Linked DNA regions of Homo sapiens. The protein of the gene in region 4 purifies or fractionates together with the protein of the main gene of each other region. This does not show direct contact. Each region holds a gene or a part of one and is shown on either strand. Other genes may lie near its edges.

Region 1 (7,028 bases), on a different chromosome or scaffold from region 4:
AATCTCCTCAAGTTTTTATTATCAGCCTAGAGAATAATTTTTAAAAATAGAAAAGAGACATTCACATGTATACTTCTTTTGATGGGATGTACCTTGTGACACCTTTGCTGACCAGCTTATGGCAGAATTTGTCGTTTTCTTCTCAGTGCACAGAGAGAACAATTGTGGTTGGTATGGGTTTGGTCTTCCTCACTTAGCTGTGTGCTTATTGAGGGGTTAGGATGGCTCCTATTAATTCTGATATCTTCAGTTCAGCTCCTAGTATACACTAAGTGCTCAAAAAATTGGTCAGATGAACAGTATTGCCAAATTATATTATTTTGAATTAAGCTTAACTGGTGGACTGGCCTCTGATTAGCTCACTAACCTTGAATGAACCATCTAACCTCTTTGCGCTATAGTTCTGTCATTTACTAAATGAGGTACATTACGTGATAGCTCTAAGATACTTTGGCTAATCATCAAACATAGAAGAAAAAGAGATCAGTATTTGCTGCATTATTAGTGGTCAATTGCAATTTTCTGGTTCTAAATTTTATTATTTTTATTATTTTTTTTTTGAGGCACAGTCTTGCTCTATCACCCAGGCTAGAGTGCAGTGGTGCAATCTCAGCTCATTGCTGCCTCTGCCCCCTGGCCTCAAGCGATTCTCATGTCTCACCCTCCTGAGTAGCTGGGATTACAGATGTGCGCCACCATGCCCAGCCAATTTTCACATTTTTAGTAGAGACAGAGTTTCACCATGTTGGCCAGGCTGGTCTTGAACTGCTGACCTCAAGTGAACTGCCTGCCTTGGCCTTTTAAAGTGCTAGGATTACAGGTGTGAGCCACTGTGCCTGGCCTCTAAATTTTATCAAAAGAAATATCAAAAGAAAAATAAATTTTTACAAGCAAATTATTGGCAGTGTTATTTTATATGGCCTTATATTGCTAAACTGGTAAAGTATTAATGCTATGACTTGAGAACTTAATAAAATCAAGAAGTCACAAAGAAGCTTCTAACATGGCTGCTTTCTGAATCACAGAAACTCTACCATGGCTTTTTCTGGAGAAATATCTTGAGTTCTGTTGACATATGGAAGTCCTGTGAAGTTACAGTAGATAAGACAGTTGCCTTGGGATAGGGAAACATCATTGAATTGGAGGTTAAGAGAATTGAGCTTTAGTCTGTGTCCCATCACTCTCCATGTGATTTTAGCCATTCCCACAAACGCTGAATCCCGGGTTTTTCCTATAAATGCTATTTAACAGGTTACATTGAAGAGGCTCATTTGATAGACAATATGTTTTATTTATGGGTGAGTTAGGGTAGTTGCACTCTGGGCTGCAGAGTTGTTTCACTGAGAGACTCTATGCTTGAAACTCAATAACTCAATGTTGGGAAGAGAAGAACTTGGCTGGAAAAAAGTAACCTAATTCTTTTATTCTGCAAGCCTTTATTGAGAGGTTCTGTGTCAGGTTATGTCCAGTAGGTGGGTACAGACATCAAAACCAAAGCCAAAAAAACCTCCTGCGCTCAAGGAGTTTGCATATCTAGAAATCATTAATGTCAGTTGAATAGCAGTAGGGATATGGGAACATTTGGTCCTTGGTGGGTTTCTCAGTATGGAAACGTTAGATGATGGTTGTAACTTTGCATCCTTTGGCTTTTGTAATTACCTGGCAATGGAAATAAAGAGGTGTTGTTGTGGACTCTTATTTTCATCAATTATATTTCCATTGCCCTCTGAAGATTGGATTCTGGGCATTACTCTCCTTATATAGTGTACATCCTTTAGTAAGGACCCAGCCATCCGTATTCACTGTTATGGACTTGGGTGGCAATGTCACCCAACTGTACTCACACAAGTAGTCATAAAATATTCTTTAACACATGGCTCAGAGTAGGGGAGGGGACTACCACATGTCAAAGTTGGAGCCTCATGCCAAATCTTACCGTAGTTCCAAAACAGTTGGCCCACTTTCATTTTAACTACTCTATTAATTGATCTAAATCCTAGTTGACAATAATCAGGACATGAGCTGTCCTGTCAGTTCAGAAAATGATTCTATTTTAAGTATTCCACAGTGCACACAGCCATATGCTGAATTATAACACAACATAAAGCCTGAACATTTAAATGCCAACTTGTGGCTGCTTGTTCCTAATGAGTCATGTTCTTGTGGTACCATGCTCTCCAAATCTTTTTGTATCTTAATGGTTGTATCTGCCACTATTTCTTTGAACTAATGGGTCTGACATTTTGTGGTGCTTGGATTTAACTTCTCTAATTTACTCAGTTTACCAACGGTTTCAGAATATATGCAAATTATATCTCAAAATTTCTCCAAAAATACTAGATTTTATACAGTCATCTCATAAAGGCGTATATTATAATGTGCAAAAGGGATTAAAAACAGACATTTACTTGTTTAAATTTTATGCAGTAACGTTTTTTCTGTGTGACCTGCAAGAAATGAGCCAGCCACACAGTAAAAGAGCAGCTCAGGTCTCAGGATCTGGGCTTCCTTCTTGACACTATAAAATTACTTCACCCTGCAAAACTTTATGCTCTTTCTCACAGGTTGTGAGGTGTTAGAACTTAAATTACCTGGCATCTCAGCTGCATTCTGTGCCTTGAAATTGGCATTGTTCATAGTTAGAGAACTACTCCTGTTGTCTCCGGTTTTTCCTCAGTTTTCCTTTGAGGGAGGCTCATTTCTTCTTCTAGATCAGCACTCTCTCACAGAATTCACCTTGAGCTGGAATTTTCTTTAAAGTTCCCTGCCATAAATATAAACGTCAAATAGACCTGCAATCATTCTTGTACTCCTGAAGAAAAAAAAATAATGAGTCGAGAGATGAATTTTGTTTTCCATATTATGTGAACTGACGGATTAGTGAAAAGACCTCCACTCTGGCTTTCAACCAGAAGCTACACCCAGTACCCATGTCAACAAACCCCTCAACTTCATCTGCTGGTGGGTGTGTGAGAGAAATATGCTTCCTTTGGATGCTGCATCTGGTATTGGGTGATGATAAATGTTTGATAGAACTGGGCATCACACTGGAATGCTTTTTTTCTCAAGAGAGTAGAAATGAGGTTTTGGAAGCTGTGTTAATGGAGGCTCATTCATGCAGCTGCCTTCCAGGTAGAACTGTTCTGTTTTAGGAAAGCTCTCAGAGGGCAAAGCTTATTTCTTTTGGAATTGTACAATACAAAGCAACCCAAATTGAATTAATTCCTTTTCCTAATGATATAATTTTTCAGCAGCTCTACACCATTTTGGCTTGAGTCTCCAGCAGATGCATGGCTTGCCCAGGTATAGATGTGGTGCCACACTCAGTGCTACTTTATTTTTTTCATACTGCAGTGAGTTTATCATGGCTATCTAAACTTCCAAAAATAGGTTTTGATATGGGTACTCAGATACTTCTTAAGGTGCTTGATTTCCTTTGGAGCTTTGAAAAGAAATTGACTTTGGAAGGTAATGCTGTGGAGAGCAATAAAATTATTTGAGGATAGTCTTATTTTAAAGATTAAATTTTGTTTGTGTTTTTTCTAAAAGTTAAGTTTTGTTTAATCTAAAGTTTAAATTTTGTTAAATTGTACCTAAGTGATGATGATCTTTATTCTAAATTTTCTAAACACCAGAAATAATTAAATATGTCCATATAAGTAATTTAGAAAGTGAATTGTGTTCATATGTATTTATTTGAGATATATAGAATTATTTTAGTACACACATCACACACATACATATGTACACATATATATATTTCCTTTCTTATAACATACCATAGACTGAACTACTAAGTCTTGGAACAAGATTTCTTAAGGAAAAAGTAGTCAATTAAGAAGAATTTTCCTTCAAGGTTTTATCTCAAGTTATTCTTATTAGAACTTAAAGAATAATAATAAAAATAAATAAATAAATAAAATAAAAAAATAGGGAGTGTCTATAAAATCATTCATTTATAGACACTCCCTATTCCTTTCTTTCATATGTATAGAAATAAATTCCTTTTTTCATATGTACAGAAATTTTAATAAATATTAATGCCATGGCTAGAAACTATTTTAAAGTAAAATAATAAGTTTGTGTAAAATATAAACTCAAAAATGACATATTTATATTAATTATCCTATGTCTGCAGAGGAAGAAATACAAACCATTAAAAGTTGGAAATGTCATTAGGAGAAAGGCACAAGGGTGTCATAAATTTATAATTTTTGCTTATACATATGCCTTGTACTTAGCTAATGTGATGCCTTCATATTCTGGGTGAATTATATTAAAACACCAATAAAATTGTTGTATACCAAGAAAAAAAAAAAGAATATCAGGGACATAAAAATTATTTCAATAAATTTGCCCACAGAGATCTTTGATTCAAACCTAAGTGTAAATAGTCATCTCAGTTTTTTTAAAGATTGTTCTTAATTCCATTACTGGAGGAGAAGGTAGACCAATTCTTTCCTGAGAAGTTAATATTATTGGGACTTCATAAATGATCCATTAGAGGTAAGCACTGTGGTAAAATAATGTCCTTCTCTCTTTAGAAACCAACTGTGTGGAGCATTGTTAAGATATGCTTCACCTTGGTGTGTATATACTGTTCAAATGTGTTTTGCAGACTCAGTTTCTGAGAGAGTAGGTGACAGCACACTGCCCATCTCTTTCTAAGTTAAATCAAGACCTGTTGTGCAGCTCAAAAATTGGTTGGGAATGTGTCTATATTTTTTTTAAGTTAAGATTTCAGTTTTATAGTGTATATATATATATATATATATATATACATACACACACACACACTAAATACTACATATGCTATTTATACTATATATTATATATATACTATATATAGTATATAGTGGGTATATATGTATATATATGTGTATATATGTGTATATACTATATATGTACTATATATGGTATATAGTATATAGTGGGTATACATGTGTATATATATGTATATACTATATATGTAATAGTATATATGTAATGGTATATATAGTGTATATATTCTCTCTATATGTAGTACACACACACATATATATAATGTAGTGGGGTAAATACAACATTTCAACATCCTTAGAAAGGAAATACACAAGAATAAATTCACAAATGGAGGATGTAGGCACAAAATGCTAGGAGCTCAGAGGAGCATAATCTGGTGGGCAGAAGTTTCACAAAGGAGATGGGATCAAGTTCAAAGAGCTTGACTAGACAAAGTACATCTCCTGTAGAAAATGAAAATGAGCAAAGGCATTGAGACATGTAAATATATTACAGGATTCTAAGTTGGCCTCTTGGGTTGGACTGGAGGCTTAGTGTAAGCAAACAGTGGCAGGGAAGCCTGGATAAGTAAATGGGACTGGATTATGGAGGCTTTGCTGACTTATCACCAAGAAAAATATTTACTGTATTTATAGCATGTCGTTATAAACACATTTATCTTAAAATTCAAGTCATAAGTTTTAATGATGCTTTTCCTCATGTGTGTCCAAGGAATGTTGTTTTGGTGTATGGGGTTATTTCCCCAGGGGAAGAATGCTGAAGCTTTTAAGATTTTGGAAGAAGCTCATTTTCCTGGTTATGATGCATATAGATGCAGTTTTAGCAGCAAGCTTGCTGGGGCAGTGCCTATTGGTTTATTATGCATCCCTTTTAATTCTTGTTTTGTTTTTCCCCACAGGTGCTTGTGTCTATCAGGATTCCTTGTTGGCGGTAGGTCATTCTTTACATACTTGGTTTCTGTCATTTGAATGTAAAATGCTTGATTGAAGTTCCTGAGTGAGTGAGTTGACCCTATCATTGTAGAATATGTTTATTTTTCTTCAACGTTTGACAATTAGCCCTCATTCGGGCACAATGATGCTCAATTATTTAATACCTTTTCCAGAGTGAATTAGTTCTATTCAGATACTCAGGTATTGGAAGAGAAATTCAAACACTCAACACACGATTTACATTCTGTGGCTGTTCTTTGTGTTCTTTTAATCAGAGAGAAAATTAGATCCCATCCTTTTGTCAGATACAAACTGAAACACAATTTTTTAACTTCTGGTTGCATTTGCTTCCCACTTTGAACCCTTCTCCAAAAAAAGTATGATTATTAAATTAAGTAGAATAGGAAGGATTTCTGTTGTTACTTTGAATTATAAACTTAAGTTTTGGTGAACAGCAAAGAAATTAACATTTATTTCTGAACTCTTGCCATATAGGGTAAAATTGATTTTGAATTTAATGTCAGAATGACTTGGGGGAAAGGCTGATGTAAGTCTCATGCATTTCTTTTCATTACTAATGCACTATGGTGCATAACAGTGTGTTAAAGCCTTATTGAAAAGACTGTCTACACTCCATCAACTCTAATAAATGGTGTGACAAATCATTCTTCACCATGTTTTTATTTTGGTTTAATAAATGCTATAATAAAACTGAACTGAGATGGTTGGAAAGAATTTGCTCATTTACATCACAACCTGCTATTGACATGTGTGATATTGATAAGTCATCCTGGATTATCCTTGTGGTATTGAAATAGCTGAGGAATATCTGAAGTATCTTAGAGTCTAGATAACTGTAGATATTCACCATAATATCCTTGAATCTGCACTTTATATACTGTAGTTACTGCTGGAGAAGTTTATTTTTTAAATATTTTTCTATCAAAAATTAGGAAAAAGCCATTTTTATTGTATTTGTCATTCCATATCCTGCCCTGTTTATTCTTTAATATATTTTAGGAATCATTTGCTCTAAAATATATTATCACTTTTGGGGAGCTACAGTAGATATTTAGACAAGTCAGTTATCCGTGCTAATAAAAGAGAATTATTTATTGTGTAGAGTACTTCATAACTTTTCCATATATTTTCATAAGTATTCATATGTCTGATACTTATAATAGACCAATGAAATAGGCAGGCCATGTATCATTCCATACTCTTTCCCCTTTTAATGGAAAAGATGAGAGAGAGAGATGAAGAGATTTGCTAGAGGTAATTCACCATTAGTGGTGGACCAGAACAAGACATCCT
Region 2 (7,028 bases), on a different chromosome or scaffold from region 4:
TCCACCACCACGTCCAGCTAATTTTTGTATTTTTGGTAGAGACAGGGTTTCACCATGTTGGCCAGGCTGGTCTTGAACTCCTGACCTCAGGTGATCCACCCCCTCGGCCTCCCAATGTGCTGGGATTACAGGCGTGAGCCACTGTGCCCGGCCATAGCTTCTTAAAAGGATACGTTAAGGACCTTAAAAGGATATGGCCTCTTAAAAGGATATGTTTACACACCCTTGTAGCAAATAAGAAGCCATGTGAGGTTTTGAGCAAGAGAAAGATGGTTATTAGGAAAGCTAATCTGGCTCTGGTAGGAAGGATATACAGAGGAGACACCGAATCCAGGGCATCAGTGAGGAAGCTGTTGCTGTCCTCCAGGTTTAGAGCAGTGGCGGTGGGACTGGAATAGATGTGCCCAAGAGACATTCAGTGGAAACGAACCAAGATTTTCCAACCCCATGTCAAAAAGTGGGAAATAGAGAAGTCAAAAATGACTCTCAAGTAGTTTGTATGACCATTGTCAGAGAGGAGAATGATAGAATACTTGTCAGCAATTTGAAATGTCTTCTGCCAGTTGCCACATGTTACCCTGCAATGAGAAAAGCCACTTTCCTGAGAATGGATACTACCCAGTGGCCTCCTCATCTGGACACCACGAAGCTTCTCACTGGTGTTGTAAGTGGAAACCAGAGTAGCTGCCTATCTCCTTGATTATATTTTTTCTTAAAAATGTATAACTATCAGAACACAGAACAAACAGCTCCTAACCGCTTTGGTGTAGTGATCACACAATTTAGAATAAGACTTAGAAGACTTTCCTTTTTTTTTTTTTTCCAGAGACAGGGCCTCCTTCTGTTGCCCAGGCTGCAGTGCAGTGACATGATCATAGCTCACTGTAACCTCGAAGTCCTGAACTCAAGCAATCCTCCCACCTCAGCCTCCCAAGTGGCTAAAACTATAGGCATGCACCACCACACCAGTTCATTTTTTAAATTTTTTGTAGAGTTGGGGCTGTATTTCCCAGGCTGTTTTGAACTCCTGGCCTCAAGTGGTCCTCCCCACTGGGCCTACCAAAGTGCTAGGATTATAGGTGTGAGCCACCACACCCAGCCTCATTCATCTTTTATGGTTTGCTGTCTCTGTTCAATCAAAACCCAGCCTCCTCCCATCTCTGTGCTGACAGACCTGGAAGGAGAGGAGTATGGGGTATACAGCAGAGTAGAAAATGTCTCCAGGTGATTCTAGAGCAATCCATTGTCTCCTCCCAGCCCAAACACATGTGTACTGAGCACGGCGCACATCACTTATTAACTTACTCTGCACCTCCCTAGTAACAAGTCCATTGGTGAGACTTACACAGAGCCAAGGCAGGTGACTTGGCTTTGTGCCAGGATACCAAAATTTAAAGGGTGCAAGAAAGTATTAATACTGGTTTTAAAAGATTATGTGACTGTAAATTTTGTTAGATTTACACATTGACAGCCCAGCATTCCTTCAACTGTCTAGAAACAACTGAGCTTAGCACCTAGTTAACAAGAATAATTAGTTAAAACGGGAAGCTAGCAGATGGTGTACATTGTTAGTAACACCCCTCTGTGTGCCAAATCCGGAGCACAAAGTTGACCGAGGGCCCGTGTACTGCAACTTGCCCAAGGCATCAAAATTGCCAGTTCCGGGCAAACGGAAAGTCTGGTTTCAGGGTGGCTTTGTACTGAAAACCCTTGTTGGCAGATTCTGCTTGGCCATTCATTACTCTAGCACAGGCCTCACTATCTACTTATAACTTATTAAGGAGGTGAGATGTTGCCTTTCTTCGCCTTCTCAATTTAAATTTCAGTTTCTGCCTTGAATCTTTCATGCCTCCAGGTCAAAAGAGAGAGACAGAGACAGGGAAAATGACATCATAACCAAATATGGAATTGCTTTAAATTCAGGCTGGTATCTTCTCCCATCACGGCTCTCCTGGGCAACCAGTTTCCTGATGACCCCAACTCACTTTCAGAGGGCTCTTATGAATTAGCTCTGTGCTACAAAGTGGGAGACTGACCTCAGTTCTTCCACCACTAACTAGCTTTGTGCCCTGAAAACATCACTTCACCCCTCCCAAACACAGAATAAGCAGGCCTCCTGTTCTTACCTAGCCCCAGTGTGCCACTACTGAACTATAAGATCTTGAGAAAATTCTCTGAACCTATTTCATCATCTCCACCTTAAGGACACTGGAATAGATGATCTCAAAGGCCCCTCCAGGGTAACTTTCTACAGCTCTATTTAAGCCAGTTTTTCCATTCAGGTAAGTGTGGACAGATTGACTTTGAGATAATGGTAACTTATTCAAGGAGAACTGGACAGTAAGCACTTGGAGAAATGTGGGTGGAACTCAGTGTGAAAGGAAGAGGAGGGGTCTGGAAATAGATTTTGGGGTGAGACTTGAAATCATGAGAATGAAGGAGCTTCCCAAAGGGGAAGTGTAAAGAAAAGAGCGTCAGAGACAGCCTTGGAAGAATAGGAGGTGGGAAGAAAACACTGCAAAAGAAATAGGGCCAACTTCCTGGTGGGTCGCGCCTGTAACACTTTAGGATACTGAGGCAGGTGGATGGCTTGAGCCCAGGAGTTCCAGACCAGCCTGGGCAACATGGCAAGACCCTGTCTCTATAAAAAATACAAAAATTGCCCGGGTGTGGTGGCACGCACTTGTAGTCCCAACTACTTGGGGGGCTGAGCCAAGAGGATGGCTTGAACCCAGTAGGTCAAGGCTGCAGTGAGCTGAGAACATGCCACTGTGCTCCAGTCTGGATGACAGAGCAAGACTCCGTCTAAAAAAGAAAGAAGCCAACCTTAAATGGTTAGCGGCAGATCTTAGGGTAGTTTTCAAAAAAGATGTTTTAAGAAATAGAAGTTATTTTGACGATAGTTCCTAAGTAGGAAGATTTTGTTGTCATTGTTGTTGTTGTTTTTAATATAAAGATAAGGTCTCGCTGCATGGCCCAGGCTTCTCTCAAACTCCTCAGCTCAAGTGAGCCTCCCACCTTGGCCTCCCAAAGTGCCATGATTACAGGCATGAGCCACAGCTCCTTGCCCAGAAGGAAGTTTTTATCAACATGGGTAAATGCACCTCCCTTACTTACTGCAGCCCTGGTCCAGAACTTACCCCTCTCTCTAGGCTGTGAAGCTTCATGGAGGTATCGATATCCTAGTCTCCAATGCTGCTGTCAACCCTTTCTTTGGAAGCATAATGGATGTCACTGAGGAGGTGTGGGACAAGGTGAGAGGGGATTAAAGCAGGGGGGCCGGGGGGGGCGCCTTGGAACACATTCAGCACAAACTCCATCTGCTTTTAGAATGCATTTCTCAAGGGCAGTGTAAATGTGAGGACTCTTTGCCACGTGCCACACACCTGGAGCACACCTTGCAAAGGGCGGGTGGGGGTGGCTCTATCCCTGCCCTTCTCATTCGTTTCTGCTACTCCTAGTTCTCTCTGCTTCTATCTGCTCTTCACTAGCCACAGTCTGCTCCTCTCCCCAGGCTTTTTCCCTGGCATGCTCTTCTGCCTTGTTGATTTCCAACAGAGACGTAGGCAGCTAATATGCCAACAACTACAACACTTAATTTACACACCCACCTGTCCCCTTTTCAGCTGACAAAAAGTAATTATTTTTTACGAGTTGGGAAATATTAAATGCTGCTCCTTATTTAAAATACTAATTCTGGTGAAATGACCAGTTGCCACTTTATAACATACATCCTTTAAAAAAATAAAATAAAAACCTATATTATTTTCTTCTTAACTGCAATGTCAAGAAAATCTGAGATCCAGATGTCTAAATTCAAGTGGTAGAATATTGGGTTTTATGTGAAAGTGTATAATTACATTATATTCGTAATATATTTCACACACACTCTTTAATTACAAAGCTTTAATTAAAATATTTGTCTTTGTTTATTAAGGTTAATATTCCCACATGATTGGGAAATGCTAATTTTTATGATCTCCCATGGTTCTGCGTTTTACACTGATGTTGTATTAGTCTGTTTTGCATTGCTATAAAGGAATATCTGAGCTGGGCAATTTATAAAGAAAAGAAGTTTGTTTTGGCTTACGATACTGCAGACTGTACAAGAAGCATGGTGCCAGTATCTGCTTCTGATGAGGCCTCAGGAAGCTTACAATCATGGCAGAAGGAAAAAGGGAGCAAGTGTGTCACATGGCAAGACAGGAAGCAAGAGAGAGATACCAGTCTCTTTTAAACAACTAGTTCTGGCATGAAGTAATAGAGTGAGAACTCACTCACTGCCACAGGGAGGGCACCAAGCCATTCATAAGGGATCCACCCTCATGACCCAAACACCTCACACCAGGCCCCACCTGGAACACTGGTGATCACATTTCAACATGGGACTTAGAGGGGACAAACTTACCAACTATATCAGATGTCATCAAAATTTCTCAACACTAAAGTATCAGGTTGCCAAAATACTATGATTTATTTACCAGTGTTTCATACACATAAAGACCAAACTGCCAAAATGTTCTTCAGTGAGCTAGTTTTTGATTCTAGTTTGAGCTAGTTTGAGAGAAGGCTGGGCAACACAGCGAGACCTTTTCTCTATATTAAAAACAACAACAACAACAATGACAACAAAACCTTCCTTCTTAGGAACTATCATCAAAATAACTTCTCTTTCTTAAACCGTCTTTTCTTCAAAACTACCCAGAGATTTGCTGCTAACCATTTAAGTTTGGCTTCTTTCTTTCTTTTTTTAGACAGACTCTTGCTCTGTCTTTTTTCCTTTTTTTTTTTTTTTCCCTCGCTGTGTCATTGAGGCTAGAGGGCTGTGGTGTGATCTCAGCTCACTGCAACCTCAGCCTCCCAGGTTCAAGCGATTCTTGTGCCTCAGCCTCCCAAGTACCTGGGACTACAGGCATGTGCCATCATGCCTGGCTAATTTTTTGTATTGAGATGCGGTTTCACTGTGTTGCTCAGGCTGGTCTCAAATTCCTGGCCTCAACTGATCCCCACACCTCAGCCCCCCAAAATATTGGGATTGCAGGCATGAGCCACCACACACAGCCAGATTCTGATAGTCTTTAAAATAGAGGAGCATCATTCATGAACAGTCTGAATAGAGACCATATGAAAGTCAGTTTTAAACTAAGTACAGGCACGCCTCAGAGATATTGTGGGTCTGGTTCCAGGCCACCACACAATAAAGTGAATATTATAATAAAGTGAGTCACATGAATTTTTTGGTTTCCCAGTGCATATAAAAGTTAGGTTTACATTATAATGATCATCTAATGGAAGTCTATTAACTGAGCAATAGCATTATGTTTTAAAATATATATACGTATCTTAATTTTAAAATACTTTATTGCTAAAAAAATGCTGACAATCATCTGAGCCTTTACAACTTGTAATCTTTTTGCTGGTGGAGGATCTTGCCTCAACATTGATGGTGGCTGACTTAGGGTGGTGTTGCTGAAGGCTGGGGTGGCTGTGGCAGTTTTTTCAAATAAGACAGCAGTGAAGTTTGCCACATCAGTTGACTCTTCCTTTCACAAGAGATTTCTCTGTAGCATGCAATCCTGTTTGATAGCATTTACCCACAGTAGAACTTCTTTCAAAATTGGAGTCAATCCTATCAAACTCTACCACTGCTTACTCTACTAAGTACCTATAATATTCTGAATCCCGTGTTGTGATTTCAACAATATTCATGGCATCTTCACCAGAAATAGATTCCATCCCAAGAAACCACTTTCTTTGCTTATCCGTAAGAACCAGCTCCTCAGCCATCTACATTTTATCGTGAGATTGTAGCAATTCAGTCCCATCTTCCAGCTCCGCTTCTAGTTCTCTTGCTATTTCCACCACATCTGCAGTTCCTTCCTCTGATGCAGTCTTGAACCCTTCCACGTCATCCATGAGGGTTGGAATCAACTTCTTCCAGACTCCTGTTAATGTAGATATTTTGACCTCCTCCCATGAATCACAAATATTCTTAATGGCATCTAAAATGGTGCATCCTTTACAGAAGGTTTTCAGTTAACTTTGCCGAGATCCATCAGAGGAATCACTATCCATGGCAGCTATAGCCTTACAAAATGTATTTCTTAAATAATAAGTCTTGGAAGTCAGAATTACCCCCGATCCATGGGCTGCAGAATGGATGTTGTGTTAGCAGGCATGAAAACAACATTAATCTCCTTGTACATCTCCATCAGAGCTTTTGAGTGACCAGGTGCATTGTCAATGAGCAGTAACAGTTTGAAAGGAATCTTTTTCTGAGCAGTAGCTATCAACGGTGAGCTTAAAATATTCAGTAAACCATGCTATAAACAGATGTGCTGTTATTCAGGCTTTGTTGTTCCATTTGCAGAGCACAGGCAGAGTAGATTTAGCGTAAATCTGAGGGCCCTAGAATTTTCAGAATGGTAAATGAGCATTGGCTTCAACTTAAAGTCACTGGCTGCATTAGCCCCTAACAAGAGAATAAGCCTGTCCTTTGAAGTTTTGAAGCCAGGCATTGACTTCTCCTCTCTAGCTATTAAAGCCCTACATGGCATCTTCTTCCACTAGAAGGTTGTTTCATCTACATTGAAAATCTGTTGTTTGCTGTAGCCACCTTCATCAATGATCTTAGCTAGATCTTCTGGATAACTGGCTGCAGCTTCTACATCAGCACTCGCTGCTTCATCTTGCACTTTTATGTTACAGAGGTGGCTTCTTAAACCTCATGAACCAACCACTGCTAGCTTCCAACTTTTCCGGAGCTTCTTCACCTCTCTCAGCCTTCAAAGAATTAAAAATTAGGGCCTTTTACTGATTAGGCTTTGGCTTAAGGGAATGTTGTGGCTAGTTTGATCTTCTGTCCAGAACATAAGAACTTTCTCTCCATATTAACAATAAACCTCTTTTGCTTTCTTATCATTTATATGTTCAGAGAAGTAGCACTTTTAATTTCCTTCAAGAATTTTTCCTTTGCATTCACAATTTGGCTAACTGGTGCACATGGTCTAACTTTCAGCCTGCCTCAG
Region 3 (7,028 bases), on a different chromosome or scaffold from region 4:
TGAGGACACAAGGACACCTTGTGTCAGCGGCCCATGCAGTTGCTCCCTTAGCCCAGAATGCCCTTCCCCCAGCTCTCCCCTCCTGTCATCCTCTGCTCAAATGCTATCCCTCAGTGAGGGCACCTTTGACCACCCCTCAGCCCCTCTGACTCTGCCCTACTGTCCATCCCCTCACTCTGGGTTGGTTTCACATTATCTAGCATCTGCCTTCTCCCACCCAGACAGGGGTCTTCATGGACCTTGTTCACCACTGCATCCCCAAAACAGGATTAATGCATTCCTGGCACTAATTAAAGAAAGAACCAATCTTGAGACTCTCGGGACATCCCAGCACCCCCAGCCCCAGCTTCCATGCACTGCCCTTGGGGGAATCCTCTCTTGGAGAGCTTCTTGCTAGCAAGAAGAGGCCAGCAACTACATAGACTGCTACAGCCCTGCCCCCAGCCCACATCGCTCACCCGCCCTGCAGTCTCAGTTCCCCAGGGGAGACCACAAGGGCAGAAATATTCCCTTGCTTCCAGGGTACAGACCCATAGCAAGCCCTGGTCTAATGTTCCCAGTCAGAGCTAAATTTCCGTGTCTTACTTCTGCATTTCACTGGCTGTTTCCCTTCCCCTCTGAGGAGGCATCGAAACCAATGCTTCTCCAATGGTGTAGACAGACTTCATATACAATCCCGCCCCTCCCCCGCCAAGACTCACAGTTGTTGTTAAAAGTAGACAGATGGACTACTGAGCATGTATGAGCTCCTCATGTCCACATAAACATTTACAGGCCAGGTGCGGTGGCTCACGCCTGTAATCCTAGCACTTTGGGAGGCTGAGGCAGGTGATCACTAGAGGTCAGGAGGTGGAGCCCAGCTTGGCCAACGTAGTGAAACCTGGTCTCTACCAAAAATACAAAAATTAGTTGGGCATGATGGCACACCACTGTAGTCCCAGCTACTCAGGAGGCTGAGCACAAGAATCGCTTGAACCCAGGAGGTGGAGGTTGCAGTGAGCTGAGGTTGCACCACTGCACTCCAGCCCGGGCGACAAGAGTGAGACCTTGTCTCAAAAACAACAAAACAAAACAACAACAAAAAAACATTTATGGGCTCCGCATGCCTCTTTGTTGAGGTTTGACAGTTCAGTGCTACAGAGTTTGCCTTAAGAGAATAATTTCCTGAGTTCTGTAACCGGCTATTACCTGCTCTCCTTCCAATCCCATTATCTTGGGAATCGATGGCCCACATATATCGATGTCTAGAAGAGCAATCTGGGGACAAGAAGAGACCAAAGCGGTTATATAACTGAATGCACACACTCCAGACACACACAACTAGGAGGGGAGCGGGGTTAGAGGAAAAGGACAGGGGAGAAGACAGAAACTGGGTTAAACTTGGAGCCATCAGATTCTCCTGAGGGAGAGTCCTAACGCTGATCTCAAGGTTCATAAACACTGATGCCCCCATTCCCCTACCCCTCAGCCTGGCTGAGCTCCTCAAGGGTGATCTTACAGACCTGGCTGTCAGGTCACTTGGAGGCTCGGGCTCAGACCTTGTTTACTGAGCCCTGGTTGGAGGAGACGGGGAAAGGGACCTAGCGCCTGTTTGGCTTGTGTGACAGAATGGATGGAACAGCCAAGAGACGGCAGTGTTGGAGCCACCCTAAACAGCTCTCTTTTGCTCACCCCTCACCAAGCCTTGGTCTCTGCATCTTAAATTTTTCTCAAACTCATCCTATCTTGTTCAGGAGTCTCAGATACAAGCCAAATCTAGACTATTTAAGCAGAATATGAATGTATTAAAAAATATTGGGGGCTGGGTGCAGTGGCTCACGCCTGTAATCCCAACACTTTGGGAGGCTGAGGCGGCCATGTGCCTAGAAGGTAAGTATCATTATCTCTGGTTTACAGAGGAGGAAACTGAGGTTCAGAGGGGACCAGTTCAATAAGCAGGGAACAGAGCTGGGACATAAACTGAGGTCTTTCGGCCCCAACTGGGGCTCTTTCCAGTACACCACGGGCCTGCTGTGGAGGACCAGAGTGGAGCCTCTAGCTGAACCCTGACCAAGCCCTGTTTTCCTTTGATCCTGAAGGTGAATGATGGTTTAGGCTAAACTTACAGAACAGAAACTTAAAGTAAGATGGAAACCTGGAAAAGCTCTTTAGTTGTGACTCAGGTGCAGCTTCAGGCGACCCCATTCCACCCCAAGCCTTCCCCTCTGATACAGGAGGTCTGAGACGGCCTTCAGGAACCTTCTGAGAACAGGGCTAGTATTCATCTTGAAAGCTGCAATGACTCGGATCCAAAGTGCTGCACCTCCGCGTCACTTTTTAACTTGCCCTGAATTAGTTTCTTGCCACCCTCTTCAATCCTCTCAACAAACCCAGCCTCCTACTTCCTCAGCACCCAGCGCTGTCTCAAACTTGTGCACGGGAAAACGCCATCCACAGACCAGCACTGGCCTCAGGTGCCCTCTATGGAGCCATCCGGGGAGAACAGCAGAGCGACATCATCGGAAAACCTGACTTGCTCTCTCCGGACCTTGATACTTGGGACTGATGTGTCAATGATCCACGGGGAAATGACACTATCACTATGACTGTGATAGAGACTTTCCTCGATACTCTCAGGTTTCTAGTGACTCTGTCTCCATGCCCTTCCTTTAGGGAACAATTTAATCAATTCCCTTTAGAGGAATTTCACTCCCTTGGGGAGTGAATCTTGAGCGAAATGATGTAAGGATATGAGAAGCAGATCCAGCGCACTCTCTCACTCCCGTGGCAGGCCCGAGAGGCTGTTGACAAGCTCCTGCTACCCAGATGGCCAGGACGGCCCTGGGTCCTGTCTGTTCAGACTTCCTGTTGATCTTATTACTACCCCAAAATCTGTCCATTTAATTTTGCTTAGGTTAGGCCAGAAAAGCAAAGCTGAGAGCAATGCGCCTGCGTTCCTCCCAGCAGGACCTCTGGGCCTGTGTTTGCAGCTGATGGGAAGAGGCCGCGTTTGCTGCAGAAGGTGGAGATGCTGCAAGGCTGTCGGGACCCAAAGCGTCTCCTTTACTCAGCACCCCAAACTGCCCCTGATGAGGAGGGTAGGGGAAGAGGGATTTAGTCCTAACTTTTAGTCCTTGCACAAGTTGCTTCTGCTTTCGAAGCCTTGGCTGTCTGGGCTTCTGATCTGTGAGACAACTGCTCCGGGGTCATCAAGGCCCCTCTCAGCTCTGCAGTCCCAGGACCCAGAGGAGGGCCTCGCACACTCAGTCCTGAAACACCTAGTGCTGACCTTGTTATGACAGTTTGCCTTTCAGATCACAAAGATCATAAATGTTTAATTTATGGTGGCTGGGTGTGGTGGCTTACGCCTATAATTTCAGAACTTTGGGAGGTTGAGGCAGGCGGATCACCTGAGGTCAGGAGTTCGAGACTAGCCTGGCAAACATAGTGAAACCCTGTCTCTACTAAAAATACAAAAATTAGCTGGGTGTGGTGGCACACGCCTGTAATCCCAGGTACTCCAGAGGCTGAGGCAGAACTGCTTGAGCCCGGGAGGTGGAGGTTGCAGTGAGCTGAGATCACACCACTGCACTCCAGCCTGGGCAAAAGAATGAGACTCCGTCTCAAAAAAACAAACAAAAAAAGTTTAATTTATGGAAGTTGGTGACTTGTTATTTATTCATTGTTTTTGAGGTAGAGTCTCACTCTGTTGCCCAGGCTGGAGTGCAGTGGCATAATCACGGCTCACTGCAGCCTTGACTTCCCAGGCTCAAGTGATCCTCCTACCTCAGTCTCCTGAGTAGCTGGGACTACAGGTGCTTACCACCACACCTGGCTAACTTTTTTTATGTTTTATGTTTTGTAGAGACAGGGGTCTCACTTTGAAGCCCAGGCTGGGAGTCGGTGACTTTTGCAGTGGAAGACAGTGTATGACTCTTGGCTGTCTCATGGCTCAGGCTTATGCTACAGAGGCTCCTTCTGCCTTCACCACAACTTACACACTCCCTGGGCAGCCTGTGACTCGTCAGGGGTGTTTTCTAATTCTGCTCTCTCTTGATCCAAGGCCCTTTGTGCCAATGAGATGACAGGCGCCTGCCTGCCTCAAGCGCTAACATGGAATGGTCTTGCACAGAGTTAGAGCCAAGCTTCCACCAGATGGCAGGCAGAAAAAGGTCAGGGCATGTCCCACCACCCTGCTGGATTTAGGGCAGGGAGAAATCTGTGCTGCTTGACTTTAATCAAGACATATTCAGCATTTTCCATGTGTTGACACTTTGCAGATAGTGATGTCACTGTCATGAGTAGGTCTGCCTGGGGAAAACACACTTTCCTAAATGCTGACTTCTTTTTTTTTTAAACCACCACTGCATAAAAAAATACAGCTGATCTAGCCATATTTCCACACTGAATGGTGTGCTTTCCTTCTGTATACTGCAAAGTCTAGACAGGCATGCAGCAAAGACTTCAGAACGTAATTACATGAAAGTGAAGGATGTAAACAGTTGTCTACTCACAAGTGGTTACTTGCAAGTGGTGAGATGAAAGCCCATCTCCAGTGAGCTGTTTAGGAATATTCCTGACAGCTTCGAAAAGCAAAGATTCTTCTAAACGATACAGACAATCTGAGAAAGCAGATTTCTTGGCCAGCCCACTAGGCCAGTACAGATTTGACCCTCAAATGGCAAGAGATCGCTGACTCACAGAATGACGAATCAACGTGTGTGTGTGTGTGTGTGTGTGTGTGTGTGTGTGTGTGTGTGTATGTGTCTGTGTATCTATCTATATCCTTTTTTTTTTTTAAATGGAGTCTTGTCTGTCACCCAGGCTGGAGTGCAGTAGGGCAATCTTGGCCCACCGCGACCTCCGCCTCCTGGGTTCAAACGATTCTCATGCCTCGGCCTCCCGAGTAGCTAAGACTACAGGCACGTACCACCATGCCCAGCTAATTTTTGTATTTTTTAGTGGAGACAGGGTTTCACCATGTTGGCCAGGCTGGTCTCAAACTCCTGACCTCAAGTGATCCGCCTGCCTCAGCCTCCCAAAGTGCTGTGATTACAGTGTAAGCCACCATGCCCTGCCCAACAAGTGTATTTTGAATCTGCCCAGTACTATACCTTGGGTAGGCTACAAACTCATCTCTAAGGCAGATGTAATCATCATCCCTTCATATCCAGAGAGTGAAATAAAGTAATAAAAATGGTGGCCATCACAGACCTTTACTGAGCATTGACTATTCGTCGGGCCCCGTGCTAAGTGCTTTACTGTGCCATCTCACTCAGTCCTTGGAGTCCCATTTTATAGATGAGAAAACGGAGGCAGAGTAAGCCTGGTAACTTGCCCAAGGTCACAGCAGTGGTGTAGATGGAGCTGGGACCTGAGTTTGGGCTGTCTGACTCCAGAGTGTGTGCTCTTAGCGACCCACCAACCCCTTTTATTAAAGTTGAGATCCAGAGGGCAGCAGTGGGTAATCTGAGTTTTCATGCTCGTCTGTATGCATGGGTGGAAATGAATAAACTCGTGTAAGGGCCAGCAAAAATTTTCCACAAGGGCCAACAGCAAATATATTATTAGGCTTTGTGGGCAAAATCAAGGATCATATGTAGGTACTTAGGTACTAATTTAAAAATTGCAATTTTAGGCCAGGCACGGTGGCTCATGCCTATAATCTCAGCACTTTGGGAGGCCGAGGCAGGGGGACGCCTTGAGTTCAGAAGTTCAAGACTAGCCTGGGCAACATGGCAAAACCTCATCTCTACAAAAAACCCAAAAATTAGCCGGGCATGGTGGCAAGCACCTGTAGTCCCAGGTACTTGAGAGGCTGAGGTGGGAGGATAGCTTGATGAGCCCAGGAAGTAGAGGTTGCAATGAGTCCTGATCATAGCAATGCACTTCAGCCTGGGTGACAGAGTGAGATCCTGTCTCAAACAAACAAAAAACATTTCAAAAATGTGAACATTCTTAGTTCAAAGGCCATAAGGCAGGAGATGGGCTGGATTTGGCCCACTGGCTATAGTTTGCAGGTCCCTGGCTTAGAGAAAAGCTAAAAGGGGTTAATAAAGAGGAAAAAGAAGCGTGAACGTAATGTAATAAACTATCCACATGCAAGGACAGATGTACATCTGCTAGCCATTTTCTTGGCTAGGGAATCCAGTGAAATGCTTCATTTGACTACTGGGCATTTCTTTGCTCTCTGCCGGATTGAGATTCCAAAGAGGCCAATTCAACTTAGTATAAGGAATCATTTTTTTTTCTTCTTGGACAGTCTCATTCTGCCACCCAGGCTGGAGTACACTGGTACAATCTTGACTCACTGCAACCTCTGCCTCCTGGGCTCAAGCGATTCTCATGGCTCATCCTCGCGAAAAGCTGGGATTACAAGCCTGCGCTACCACGCCCAGCTAATATTTTGTATTTTTAGTAGAGACAAGGTTTTGCCATGTTGGCCAGGCTGATCTCAAACTCCTGGCCTCAAGTGATCTGCCCGCCTTGGCCTCCCAAAGTGCTGGGATTACAGGCATGAACCACTGCGCCTGGCCTAGGAATCAGTTATTTAGTAGCCATCACGACCCTCAGACAAAATGAGCATCTCCCAGTGGTTCCTGAGGTCTCACCTGTGTGTTTTCATCCTCTGCTAGGCCATGGGCAAGGTGGGCGCTGAATGTGCTTTTCCCAACACCGCCTTTCCCAGACAATACCAAGATTTTGTGTTTTACAGTCTTCATTTTCTCTTTGATTTCCTCTATAGCTGCAAAGAAAACCAAAGTTCAGGGGATGAGGTCCCACACCAAACCTCGAATGTCACGCTTCCAGTCAACTAGAAAGAGCTAAGTCCTAGTCCTAGTACTAGTCCTGGGGCTGTTTAAAACGATCCTCTGAAATACCTCTCAGACAATGGTAGAAATAAGTGCTAGGAAGAAAATAAGGCTATTATCACACTTGAAGGGGTCTCATTTATTGGTTTACACGTTTGTCTCCCCCAACTAGAACATAGTCTCCACAAAGGTAGGAACTGTCTGAAGCTTTCAGTGCTGTATTCCCAGCTCCAGAAG
Region 4 (7,028 bases):
CACTGTGCAGTCAGCAAGGTTGGTTCTGCTCCAGGTGTCTCATCCTTCTGCTGGGACTGGCAGGCTAGCCAGGGCATGCCATTCTCATGGTTATGGCAAAGACACGGAAGAGCAAGCCCAATGGCACAAGCACACTTCCAGCCCCTGTTTGTGTCACCTCTACTAACATCCCATTGGCTAAGGCAAGTCAAATAATGAAGTCCAGAGTGAAGGGATGAGGAAGTACAACTGGCTACAGTGGGAGGGCACAGCAAAGTTACCAGGCAAAGGATGTGGATGTGTAATGACAGTCCTATTACTGGAGAGAAGTGGAGCTATGAAGAGTTGCGAATAATCCAGTCTACTTATCAAGCACTCTTTCAGGTCACTTTCCACCACCGTCTACCCAATCCATGACAGCTGAAGAACTTAACTTCTCAATACCAATTTAGTTAAAACATATAACTGGAAGAATAAATCTGATACTCTCAAAGTCTGCATTCAAAAACAGCCTCTTAAAAAAAATCCCCCACCTCACCATTTATCTCTAACAGAAAGGATTACTATGAGAATATATATGTTGATTCAAATTTTTTTAATGATGACCCCAATCCAATAACTCATTCAGACCTTTCTATTAATATTTCTGGTCACCAAAAGCAGATATGAGCTATATGGGAAAAAGCAAAGGAGTTCACTCAGAGAAAATACATCCATTACACAGAACAATGTCTTCAAGTCATACTTCATTTTGTGTCCTTATACTAGAAGTGCAAATATGAAAAATTAGACTTTTGCATCAGCTTTTGAACTCCTTCATCCAATTGCTGGGGAAGGAAACTAGTTAAAAGCAGGGCAAAGCATGGGACAAAGGGATTGTAGAAGGCTCAGAAAACAAAACAAACCAAAAAAAAGAAGTGAAAAGGAGACTGAGAGGGTATAAACAAGTCTTGCTTTCTTCAATTTCAGCATATCCAGCAAAAATAGAACCAAATATCTCTACTACTTCCATTACAAGATAAACTTTTTACTTCTTTACCCCCACTGTATCAAAGGCTGGACCCTTCATAAAGCTCTGAGCGGGGAACAAAGCATTTGTTGCCTGAGAACAAAGTTTTTTGTTTTTGCTTTGTTGTGTTTACTTGGTTATGAGTGATATCAGAACAAAATATCTTCATCTAGTTTAGCACTTTTTTCCAATATACCCTTAAGAACACCAAGACTGAAATAACATCTGAGAGTCCCAGAAGTATTTTGAGCTGAGAGCATAACAAAAGCTCTGCTATGCTACATAAAATGGAGCTGAGATTCACAGATAATAACAATAATGCATTTCTGCTTCATGCTTTTCATCTTGATAGGTCTGAATTACCCACTCTCCACTTCAGAACCACTTTGCTGCAACTCCCTCCTCCAACCCAAGAGCCACCATCTCTCAGATCAGAAGGTTGTGATGTTTCATGGCCATAGAAAGAAGAAGAAATAAACATAGTTCATTATAAAACACAATTCTCATACTATACCTGAAACAAACTTCCTCCTTCATTTTTCACAAAGAAATGTTGCATTTAATTTAATGTGCATTCAAGGCTGATAAATCAGGTGCCAATTAATGAATGCATTGTCACGTATCTTAGGTTTATTGCCCATGGTTGATATTCCCAATCATGCAATCTTACAATTAATGTTCATAATAAAAATGTACCAAAAGTCTCCATTTCTAAATGGCCTTCTCATTCCTCCAAGGATTCTAGAATTCACTCTGAGTTACTGTTAATGTACTTTATCCTAGGAATCAATAAGCAGAAAACAGATACCTTTAAGGAAAGGAGTTTCTTGTCTAAGGCACGAGCAAGTTCCAACATCATTGCACATGGCACGGCTGAATCAGTGGCTCCTACAAACACTCTGTTGTTCCAGTGGGAAAAATACTTGGAGTCATAGTGGCAGGCGAGGACCAAATGTCGTTTAGCAGTGGGATTGAGGGTGCTGATGATATTTGAGAAAGACCGGTACCCATAGGGTGTCTGACTCAAGAAGGTGTCTATTTCCAAGACCCAGTCAGCCTGAAGCCTCTGAATTCGCTGCATGATGTGCTGATCAAAACAAAAAAACAAAAAATTTAGATCTAAAGAAATGGCTTTCATTTGTTAACTGTGATTCTGAAATTTTAAGTAGTGCCTTTCAAATTAAAATTGGAATACACACTTAATGAATTCATAGCAATATTATTGCAATTAATAATTGCTTTGTATTGTTATTGTAATTAATAGCATTTGTCCTGTTTAAAGGAGAAGCTAATCCTCTTGCCTCTCCCTTAAACTTCCCCTTACTAATCAATCTCAACCAATTGTTAATATTAACCAGTGTTAATAGTTTGATGCAGATCTTTCGACATATCTTCTCCTTGCTTATGCAAACCTACAGTAGCATACAAACACATATATTTGGCAGAGGGGCATATGTTTTTGTAGGAAAAGAATCCTACTTTTTATATTACTCTCCCCTTGCTTTTCTCCTTTAACAATATATTATGGACATGTCTACAAGTCAGGAGACAGAGATGCAGTTCGGTAATAGTAACGTACACTTTTAATATTTCTAGGAGGCTACAAAGGCATATTTAAAAAATTAAGTAAACCAGCAACCTACAGGTCTCTATCTCTAAGCTCTTCAAGGACAAGAACTGCAAATGGTAGCTCTTTCTGTCCCAAGTGCATAACATGTGTCCAAGTCCAGCAAATGCTTTACATGTAATGAACACTAATAAAAGATACAGATGCTCACCTGCTAAGGATAACGTAGAAAGCTCCCATAGCTAGGGGGTGGTTCAGGTTATTTCAGACCTCCGCTCACTGTAAGAATTAATAAGCAACCCTGAACCATAATAACATATCAAGCAGCTTTCCCTCTGCACCCAAGGCAGGTTGAGACGCACTGCAAATGCTGGCAAATATAAAAGAGAATCTCTTTCCCCATCTCTGCTGGCCACCTTGAGCCTTATAAGGCAACACAGTGACTGACAGAAGAAAGCAACAGGTGCAGAAAGTAGCATCACTTCAGGAACTAGAAGTATTTTTTTAAAGAACATATTATAGACTTCACGATGTGAGAAGTTATAGGTGAGTTCATTGCTGATTCATTTGCCTTTTCCCATCCCTATTTTATCTTGGCTTCACTTTCCTATGTTCCTTGGTTTTTTGTTTGTTTGTTTGTTTTGTTTTGTTTTGTTTTGTTGTTTAACAGGGCTTCACTCAGTCACCCAGGCTGAAGTGCAATGGTGCAATCTCAGCTCACTGCAACCTCCGCCTCCTCGGTTCAAGCAATTCTCCTGCCTCAACATCCTGAGTAGCTGGAATAACAGACACATGCCACCATGCCTGACTAACTTTTGTGGGTTTTTTTGTTTTGTTTTTTTGGTTTTTTGTAGAGATGGAGTTTTGCCATATTGCCGGGGCTGGTCTCAAACTCCTGGGCTCAAGTGATCCATCCGCCTCGGCCTCCCAAAGAGCTGGCATTACAGGTGTGAACCACCATGCCCAGGCTGTTTCTTTTTTTTTTTTTTTTCAAGTATCATATACATCATTGTAAATTGCCTTAAATTATTTTTATAAAAAGTCAAACGACAAACTAACATCAAAATAACTGACAATTTGTCCTTCAATTAACATCTAACCAAAAACCAACATTTCAGATCTAACAGTTCAGATCTAGACAGTTTAGATCTGGGATGGACCTTAAAATGAAAAATGAATAACTGGAAATGAATGTGAGGGCTTTTATTTTTTTTTTCCTCCTAAGAAATACAGGATTTTCTATCCTAGCCAAGTCCCATGTGGCCTGTGCTCACTAATGCGACATGACACGTAGGCAAGAGACTCAAAACAACTGCGGCAGGAAGCTTCCAAGGAAAGGGGAATTTAAATAGTGGGAGGACACTGATCCTACAGTCGGTCCTGCAAAAGCCAACTAAACAAATGATTCCCCAGCTAGAGACTCCTTGCTTTTTATAGTGGGTGGACTTTGTCCTAAATAGCATTGTGCATGCAGTACCTTAACTTTTCTATTGCAAATTTACATGCTGTCTTATCACATCATCAAAAGAAATGTTTATAACCTTTTTTGAAATCAGCATTCATAACTCTCCACAATTTGTAGTACTGTGCTTTGCTCACAGTAGGCTATCAGTAAATATGGGTTCATTCTAACAGTAAATATGAATTGATTTAATGAGAATATATAAAACTATACGATACAAAGCATTAATAGTTTGAATAGAGAGAAATCACTATGCACCTAACATGAGTTTTTCTGCAGACTATGAAAATGAGTTATCCCTAGACTGTAAAAAAAAAAAAAATTCCACAAAATGGGTCATTTAAAAAAAAAAAAAGCATATACTCCAGAACATCTGGTATCCAGATGATAAAATGCTCCATAAAATGGCTTCTTCAACACCAATTGCAGATTGCAAGCTCACAAAATGAATTGGAATTTTAAAAAATATATCTGTTAGCAATACTCAGAAGTCACACACAAACTTATTTCTCAACTTGTTACTAGGTCTTGATCATAATTTCTGATGACCTTGTTGACACTAAAATCCATAAGAGAATCAGCATATATCCTCAAAAGAGTTTTTCCTGAAGCAACTTTTTTTTTTTTTTTTTGAGACGGAGTCTCACTCTGTCGCCAGGCTGGAGTGCAGTGGCACAATCTTGGCTCACTGCAACCTCCAACTCCCTGGTTCAAGCAAATTCTCCTGCCTTAGCCTCCCGAAAAGCTGGGACCACAGGCACATGCCACCACGCCTAGCTAATTTTTGTATTTTTGGTAGAGACAAAGTTTCACCATGTTGGCCGGGATGGTCTCGATCTCCTGACCTTGTGATCTGCCTGCCTCAGCCTCCCAAAGTGCTGGGAATACAGGCATGAGCCACCGCACCCAGCCCCGCAACTTTTTTGTTCAGTGTAACTATTTTTTGTTTATCTTAGCAGCTAAGATAAATCGTCTTTATAAACGATCAAATTGGCTGCATAATCTAATTAGTTCACCAATATCCCTTGTTTTGTTTTTGGCTTTCAGACTTAGTCTACAAGTCCCCACCAGAAGTCTCTAGGGGAACTCCCCAAACGACCACTACTATCATTCAAATACCCGTAAGCAGGGAGTGCGTGGCTGTGGCAGGGACTCTAAAGCAGCTGCCTTCCCCAATACCAAAGCAGCAAAGGGCTGGACCCTCCAGGAGTGCCGAAAGGCAATTTAGAATATAGATCACACTTTGGGTTGCTATACATCTATGTTTTAAAATGGAGAGGAGAGAAAAAGGGAGAAAGAGAAAAAGTGAGAGAGATGGAGATAGGGATAAAGCAGAGATAGATGGAGACTGAGTAGAGAAAGAAAAAAAATACAAAGATGAAGACATGAGCACGAGAGAGAGGCTGTTACAAGATAGTCTACTTCCAAAGAGTGGTAGGGGGATTTATTCTAGGTTAACACTAGTGAATGATCCTGGGTTTCATTTAATTAAACATAAATTCTAGTTTCCAGGTTCTGAGAAACAATGACATCAGTAGACCAGATTTGCTTGGAGGAAGCCGATTTTCCAGTATTTGTGTTAAGTCTGCAAACACATCGTCGTCAGGATGCGGACATCTGCCACCTGAAGACTCGGGTACCTCTTTACTCTTGAGTGCACCATATATGAGTCCCTCGGGCTCCTCCTCTTAGGGGGCTGGACTGAGGGTGCACCTGGGATCTATGTACCTGATGACATTCAGTTTCGGTGGCTCAGATGCACTGTGCACCTGTGGGGGATTTTACCCCCTGAAGTTTCTAGTTTGCCTCTTTTAGACAAAGGATATTGCTTGCCCATTTGTGAGACTTTATCATCCTAATTTTTTAATTTTTTTATTTCTATCTTATAAATCAATGAAATAGCCCCAAATGTATTATCTTCAAATTATTTGTTTTACAAATAACTTATCTCCTCAAAATAAAAATATCCTAATAATCCAATAGGCAGCTTTGGGGTCATTGATCAGAGACCAGGAAAACGCATAATGTGGGACAGGGTTCCCCCAAAATATTCTCTTTCTGTAAAAGAGAACCCATAGTAATGCACATCTTTACTGGTAACTACAAAAGTTAATTCACAAACCAATTTTATATCAAGTTTACCCTTTTTTAATATTTGAGGATCTTCTCTAGTTACAACCTTGAAACTCTAAATTATAAAACATCTCATCTAGTGTTCAAAAAGGCCTCAGGAGAAAAAAAAAAGGTTCAATCATTTTTGTTTCAATTCAGTTCTACATGAAAGGATCTAATCTTAGTCAAATTAAGGCCATTAGTGTAGTTCCCTCATAATTACTCTGTCATGTACCTCACTTTCAAAATGAGAATTCCTTTGTCTTCCACAGCTTAGAAGATAGGTCTCTAAAAATTAATGGTAATTTTCTTCTCAAAAAATTCTAAAATGGAATCTAAGTGAGATATCTAACATAGCCATCAGCCAGCCCATGCATAGGCAGCCCAGCAGTAGTTCCCAACACATTCTAAAATACTGTCCATAAATATCTCATTTGCCTCCACCCCCATATGATAGTGGAGAATGTTACTGAAACTTCAGTAACACTTTTAAATGAATATGTATCTTTTTAACTACAACAATATCTATGTATATTATTTATCCTATATACTGTATTCTGTTGAAGCTAAAGATCAACTAGCAAAGTTTATTGTGTTCATGGATTTCCAGAGCCTGCAGGCAAAGAACCTCAGGCCTGAAGTATGCATATCATTTCTGGTTATATACAGCGCTCTGGGCAAATGGTATGGGAAAAAAAAAAGGTTGAGTTGAATGGGAAGAGTAAGCATCACAGACCTAGATTTTTTTCTAACAAGGAACTGAGGCTTTTGGAAAATGCCAATTAAATGCCCTGGCCTTCTTTTAAGAAAATGCTTGAGAGATAAGGCCCAGGGAATGTTGTTAAAGTGAATGGTATGTGCCTCACTCTCCAACTTGGGCTTGAGAAGATCGAGAGCTG

What was found.
Region 1: the proteins of QPCT (region 4) and FRAS1 purify together in Homo sapiens (affinity purification with mass spectrometry; 3 studies listed by BioGRID and IntAct, with this or other methods). This does not show direct contact.
Region 2: the proteins of QPCT (region 4) and DHRS4 purify together in Homo sapiens (affinity purification with mass spectrometry; 3 studies listed by BioGRID and IntAct, with this or other methods). This does not show direct contact.
Region 3: the proteins of QPCT (region 4) and NUBP1 purify together in Homo sapiens (affinity purification with mass spectrometry; 3 studies listed by BioGRID and IntAct, with this or other methods). This does not show direct contact.

What each region holds. Positions count from the first base shown.
Region 1 is NC_000004.12:78,060,305-78,067,332, forward strand, and holds part of FRAS1 (extracellular matrix organizing protein FRAS1 isoform 1 precursor), read left to right. Parts: intron 1-5,680; coding exon 5,681-5,712; intron 5,713-7,028. UniProt on the Homo sapiens protein: Involved in extracellular matrix organization. Required for the regulation of epidermal-basement membrane adhesion responsible for proper organogenesis during embryonic development. Involved in brain organization and function.
Region 2 is NC_000014.9:23,956,750-23,963,777, forward strand, and holds part of DHRS4 (dehydrogenase/reductase SDR family member 4), read left to right. Parts: intron 1-3,152; coding exon 3,153-3,254; intron 3,255-7,028. UniProt on the Homo sapiens protein: NADPH-dependent oxidoreductase which catalyzes the reduction of a variety of compounds bearing carbonyl groups including ketosteroids, alpha-dicarbonyl compounds, aldehydes, aromatic ketones and quinones.
Region 3 is NC_000016.10:10,746,839-10,753,866, reverse strand, and holds part of NUBP1 (cytosolic Fe-S cluster assembly factor NUBP1), read right to left. Parts: intron 6,725-7,028; coding exon 6,591-6,724; intron 1,258-6,590; coding exon 1,189-1,257; intron 1-1,188. UniProt on the Homo sapiens protein: Component of the cytosolic iron-sulfur (Fe/S) protein assembly (CIA) machinery. Required for maturation of extramitochondrial Fe-S proteins.
Region 4 is NC_000002.12:37,354,627-37,361,654, reverse strand, and holds part of QPCT (glutaminyl-peptide cyclotransferase precursor), read right to left. Parts: intron 2,076-7,028; coding exon 1,797-2,075; intron 1-1,796. UniProt on the Homo sapiens protein: Responsible for the biosynthesis of pyroglutamyl peptides. Has a bias against acidic and tryptophan residues adjacent to the N-terminal glutaminyl residue and a lack of importance of chain length after the second residue.